Regions from separate parts of the Homo sapiens genome. Here region 2 is linked to region 1. The links come from fine-mapping of genetic effects on gene expression. Tissue or cell type: thyroid. Region 1 holds a variant in brackets; the other region holds the start of a gene. All regions are shown on one strand. Distances are between the middles of the regions.

Region 1 (2,912 bases):
AGAGATTGGGCTCCATGCCATATGGTGATCATATGGTAATCATAGTGTGCTGGAAGCATGAGTAAAGCATTCAGGCTCTTTTATTTCTTTCCCAGTCTAAGACAGCAAGGGCAGGTACCACTGCATGGGCAGTGGCAGTTGGCTGTCATTTGCCTCTGGGAGCTCCATCACAGGATAACACAGAGCCACTGGCAATAGAAATGTTCAGCTTGGGTGAGGTAGCTACTCTGCAGGCCCAAGCAAGGAGTTCTGCTTAGTGAAGGATAGGAGTTGGGAGCTCACAAGGAAGAGAGACTGGGTTCTATGCTATATGGCAGCTGTGTCATGATGAAGGTGCTAGTGAAGCAACCAGGATTTTGTTCTTTCCCCAGCCCAAGGGCAGTTTCTTAGTCCTTTTTTACACTGCTGACAAAGACATACCTGACACTGGACAATTTAAAAAAGAAAGAGGTTTAATCAATTTGTAGTTCTACATGGCTGGGGAGGCCTCAAACTCATGGCAGAAGTCAAGAAGAGGAGCAAGTCACATCTTACATGGATGACTGCAGCCAAAGAGAGACCTCGTTTGGGGAAACTCCCATTTTTAAAGCCATCGAATTTCATGAGACCCATTCACTATCATGAGAACAGCATGGGGAAGACTCACTCTCATGATTCAATCATTTCCCACTGGGTCCCTCCCACAACATGTAGAAATTATGGGAACTACAAGATGATACTTGGGTGGGGACACAGAGTCAAACCATATTATTATACCCCTGGCCCCTCCCAAATCTCATATCTTCACATTTCAAAACCAATCATGCCTTCCCAACAGTCCCACAAAGCCTTAACTAATTTCAGCATTAACTCAAAAGTCCACAGTCCAAAGTCTCATCTGAGACAAGTCAAGTCCCTTCCACTTATGAGCCTGTAAAATCAAAAGTAAGTTAGTTACTTCCTAGATACAATGGGGGTACAGGCATTGGGTAAATACAGCCATTCCAAATGGGAGAAATTGGCCAAACAACAGGGCTACACGCCCCATGCAAGTGTGAAATCCAGAGGGACAGTCAAATTTTAAAGATCCAAAATGATCTCCCAGTAACTCTATGTCTCACATCCAGGTCATGCTAATGCAAGAGGTGGGTTCCCAAGGTCTTGAGTAGCTCCCCACCCGTGGCTGTGTAGGGTACAGCCTCCCTCATGGCTACTTTCACAGGGTGACATTCAGTGTCTTAGTCTTCTCTAGGTGCA[C/T]GGTGCAAGCTGTCAGTGGATTTACCATTCTGGGGTCTGGAGGACGGTGGCCCTCTTCTCACAGCCTCATTAGGCAGTGCCCCAGTAGGGACTCTGTGTGGGGACTCCAACCCCACATTTCCCTTCCACACTGCCCTAAACAGTGGTTCTTTATGAGGGCCTCACCCTTGCAGTGAACTTATTCCTGGACATCCAGGCATTTCCATACATCTGAAATCTAGGCAGAGATTCCCAAACCCCCATTTTTGACTTCTGTGCACTCACAGGCTCAACATCAAGTGGAAGCTGCCAAGGCTTGGGGCTTGTACCCTCTGAAGCCACAGCCTAAAGTCTACATTGGCCCCTTTCAGCCATGGCTGGAGCAGCTGGGACGCAGGGTGCCAAGTCCCTAGGCTGCTCACAGCATGATGACCTTGGGCCTGGCCCACAAAACCACTTTTTTTCTCCTAGGTCACCAGGCCTGTGATGGAAGGGGCTGCCATGAAGACCTCTGGCATGCCTTAGAGACATTTTCCCTATTGTCTTGGGGATTAACATTCATCTCCTCATTACTTATGCAAATTTCTGCAGCTGACTTAAATTTCTCCTCAGAAAATGGGATTTTCTTTTCTATCACATTTTCAAGCCGCAAACTTTTTGAACTTTTATGCTCTACTTCCTTTATAAAACTGAGTGACTTTAACAGCACCCACATCACATCTTGAATGCTTTGCTGCTTAGAAATTTCTTCCATGAGATACCCTATATCATCTTTCTCAAGTTCAAAGTCCCACAAATCTCTAGGCCTGGAGCAAAATGCCACCAGTCTCTTTGCTAAAACATAACAAAAGTCACCTTTGTTCTAGTCCCCAAGATCCTCATCTCCATTGGAGACCACCTCATCCTGGATTTCATTGTCTGTATCATTATCATCATTTTAGGCAAAGCCATTCAACAAGTCTCTAGGTGGTTCTAAACTTTGCCACATTTTCCTGTCTTCTTCTGAGTGCTCCAAGCTGTTTCAACCTCTGCCTGTTACCCAGTTCTAAAGTTGCTTCCACATTTTCAGGCACTTTTCAGTAGAGCCCACTCTACTCGTACCAATTTACTATATTATTCCATATTCATGCTGCTGATAAAGACAGACCTGAGACTGGGCAATTTACAAAAGAAGGAGGTTTAATCAACTTACAGTTCCACGTGGCTGGGGAGGCCTCAAAATCATGGTGAAAGGTAAGTAGGAGCAAGTCACATCTTACATGGATGGCAGCAGGCTAAGAGAGAGCTTGTGTCAGGAAACTCCTGTTTTTAAAATCATTAGATCTGGTGAGACCCATCCACTATTACGAGAACAGCATGGGAAATACCCATCCCCATTATTCAGTCATTTCCCACCAGGTACCTCCCACAAAACATGGGAATTGTGGGATCTACAGGATGAGATTTGAATGGGGACATAGAGCCAAACCATATCAGGCAGCAAGGGTGGTACCACTGTATGTAATGGCAGAGGGGCTGTGGGTTGTCGCTGGGAATTCTATCCCAGAGAAATGCACAGATGCCACTGTCTGAAATGTTCAAGTGGGAGCAGGGTAGCTGTGCTGGGGCCCAGGTCGGGAGACCCTGCCCAGTGAGAAGTAGCAGGAGCAAAGACAGGCATGGAAAAAAGTCTGACACCTCCATAAGGCAGCTGTGCT
Region 2 (2,912 bases), 65 kb after region 1:
GTCCATCAGGGAGAAACCCCGTGGGCGTCCGTGTCATGATCGTTTCCCTCTCCACACCTCTTTCTGGATGATTGGGCAGGTGTGGTGATCCTGGAGCTCTGGGCTTCCATACCTGTGTGGGACAGGGAAGCTCTCTTGGTCTCCATGGCCCAAGTGATGGCTGCGCGCTCGGTCCAGGAAGAGGGGGAGGCAAGCCCACCGTTCCCCACATTGGCCTTCCAGGAAAGGCGGTGTTGCATCCCACCTGCACTTCCTGTCTGATCCTTGAGGGCCAACCGGTCCCTCCGCTCCTGGGGAAAGCGCCTTCTGGCACTGAATCTTTTGGCTGCCACGGATGTCAGGGAGCCAACGGGACTGGGTTTTGGCTGGGTGCAGGGGAGGTTGCGTCAGGGGTACCTAAGCGGTAGCGGCGTGGGGGTGGGGTGTACTTGGTCCAAAGCTCTGGGCTCCTCTGGCGGGCCTCCCTGAATGTGGCCTGGACTCGCGCACAGGCCCTGTCTCGCAGGTTTGCAGGTGCGCTTGGCTTTTCCTCTGCTTTGTGGGGCAGGTCTCCAGTGGCCCCCGGGCGCACGCCTGGACATCACTGTCCGTCTCGTCGTCGCCCCCTACGGCCTCAAAGACACACGCTCTCTGCATGTGCTCTTGGGGGACGTCAGTGCCACGTTTGGTCACACGGGCTCCAGCTCGGACTCGCCTCTGTCTTTGCCGATGTCGCCGGAAGCTGCGTCGGGATGCCGGAGCCCCCGGGCCTTGGAGATGAAGGCAGGCCCCTGCTCCACCCAGGAAGGAGGGAGGCAGTGGGCTCATGGGTCAGTGCCGTTGCAGACGACAGCACGCCTTGCGGCCTTGGGGATCTTTCCGTGCCCCGGCGAGACCCTTTCCGCCTCACTGCATTGTAACCCCATTCCCGATCAGCCGGTGGGAGCCATCATCGGATCCCAAGAGGTGTCCGCGCAGCCCAGCCAGCACCCCGAAGGTCCTCCTTCACCGGGAACAGAAGCAGGAGACCGATCAAGGAGGTCCTGACGACAGGACTCCTATGGGTCCGACCCTGAGTCTCCCGCAGGCCCCTCTGGTAGTCCTCTTCCCACCCTCTGCCTCGGGCTGCGCCGCAGTCCCCGCCGCAACCTCCAGCACCGCCACCCCAGTCCCCGCAGCCGCCATGTCGCCGCCATTTTTTAAAGGGTCTGCAGCCTGACTCTGCGGAGTAAGGGGGCGTGGGGCGGGTGAGTCGGCCTCGCCAGTGAGCATGCGCGAGGCCCGAGCCGCCGCTGTGGTCACAGTGACCGCCACCGTTGCCCGGGGATGGGTCCTTGAGACTTGGCTAAGCAGGCACCCTGTGTGAGCTTGGTCAGAGTCGGGGCTGAGACCAGTCCTGGCCAGGGCAGTTAACAGGAAGGTCTCCGGAGGCCGGGATTCGCGGAGGGTCCATCAGGAGGAAGAAACCTCAGACAGATCTCCGGGGAGACAGCGCGGGATCCCAGCCTCAGGCGTGCGCGGACAGTGTGCGGGTGAGTCTCCCCAAAAGTGGCGCTCTTGGGATGTCGAGGACAGGTCTGCCTGTGTGTCCGTGGGCTGCTCTCTTCACCGGTGGCTTGGTAGTCGCAGAGAGCAGAACCCAGCAGGTTCTGGGGCTGCCTGGGTGTGGGCCTCAGTAAGCTTACAATCATGGCAGAAGGTGACGGGGGAGCCAGCACTTCACATGGCTGGAAGCAGGAAGAAGAGTGAGAAGTGGGGAGGTGCTATACACTTTTAACAACCAGACTCACAATAACTCACTCACTATCGCAAGAACAGCACCAAGGAGATGGTGCTAAACCATTTAAGAGAAACCGCTAGATGATCCAATTGCCTCCCAACACGCCCCACCTCCAACAGTGGGACTTATAGTTTGACTTGAGATTTGGGTGGGGACACAGATCCAAATGATATCAGTGTGTTAAAAGGAAAAGGAGATAACAGTGGGAAATGGATATTTAACTTCAATTTGTGAGTTTTTATTTTAGAGTTCTAAAATTATGTCTTATACTACCTATACAAGTGCTGGAATATTTTCTGTATTAAGTGGTAGATATATAATATCCGAATATCATACTTACCTTCTTTGACCTTGCAGTTTAAGAGGGCATTTTAAGAAAGTAAACAAACACATTGATTTTTTTTTAAAGGAGAAATTTTTCAGTAAACGATATAGGTACGTTAACATGGGCGATATAGGAAAGTTACTGATGGAGAGACAATCCTACATAGAAACCTAAGGAAGCAATTAACTCAGACACAGAGATTGAGAAGAGTAAAATGGAAAATGGGTGAAATCTGGGAAATCTGTTGCTTCCAGTAGAAGAAACATAATATTGAAGGAACAGAGATTGATGTCAAGAGTTCAGGGAAACAAACCAGAATAAGAATGTTTAGACAAAAGGCTGATGGTAGAAGGAAATTGAGACTGAAAGTTATAGAGAGCACAGGCTTACTCGAAGATTAGCAGACAAAAGAACATCTGTAAGTTCAATCATGAAGGAGTGCCAGAATTAAAGAGAAAATAAGGAAATAATAAAGGGAATCTTTTGATGTGAGGAACCAATTGGGCTATGAACTCAGCCTGCTAGCCTGCCATTCCAATGACAGTAGGAAATAAATGTTCTGTAAGTTATTTGAAAATTAGAGGACAAAGTAATTGTTTGTTCTATAGGTAGAGAAACATTTTTGTAAATGATAATACAGCTGTTCTACCAATTTCTCTTAATTTTCAAACTTTTTGAAGGGGTACACTATATTTTCACGATTTGTTCATTCTGATTTCCAACTCATATTTGTTCATCATTTTCTCTTTACTTTTTAAAAAGTTGAAAGACATTCATATCACAAAATTTTCACTGGATAATTTTTCTTGTTGCAACTGTAGATTTTTG

Alleles and levels. Positions count from the first base shown, and alleles are read on the strand shown. Sizes are in standard deviations (SD) of each study's normalised expression.
For the expression in thyroid of the gene that starts at base 1,282 in region 2, C is the low allele of the variant in region 1 and T is the other (moderate effect, 0.62 SD a copy in GTEx).

What was found. PIP is the estimated chance that this variant, and not a neighbour inherited with it, causes the effect. A credible set is the group of variants that fine-mapping cannot tell apart.
Region 2: SNHG27 starts here. The variant in region 1 is the best candidate, but not a certain one, in a credible set for the expression of SNHG27 in thyroid (GTEx, PIP 0.78).

Annotation. Positions count from the first base shown.
Region 1 is chr4:131,698,214-131,701,125 of GRCh38, forward strand. The region is part of intron 4 of LINC02377 (long intergenic non-protein coding RNA 2377); the gene reads left to right. Among named protein-coding and RNA genes, the nearest start is that of SNHG27, 65 kb to the right of the region's middle. The variant C/T (reference allele first, on the strand shown) is at 1,237.
Region 2 is chr4:131,763,557-131,766,468 of GRCh38, forward strand. SNHG27 (small nucleolar RNA host gene 27) reads left to right here and starts at 1,282. Exons shown (of 3, transcript NR_125884.1): 1 at 1,282-1,511.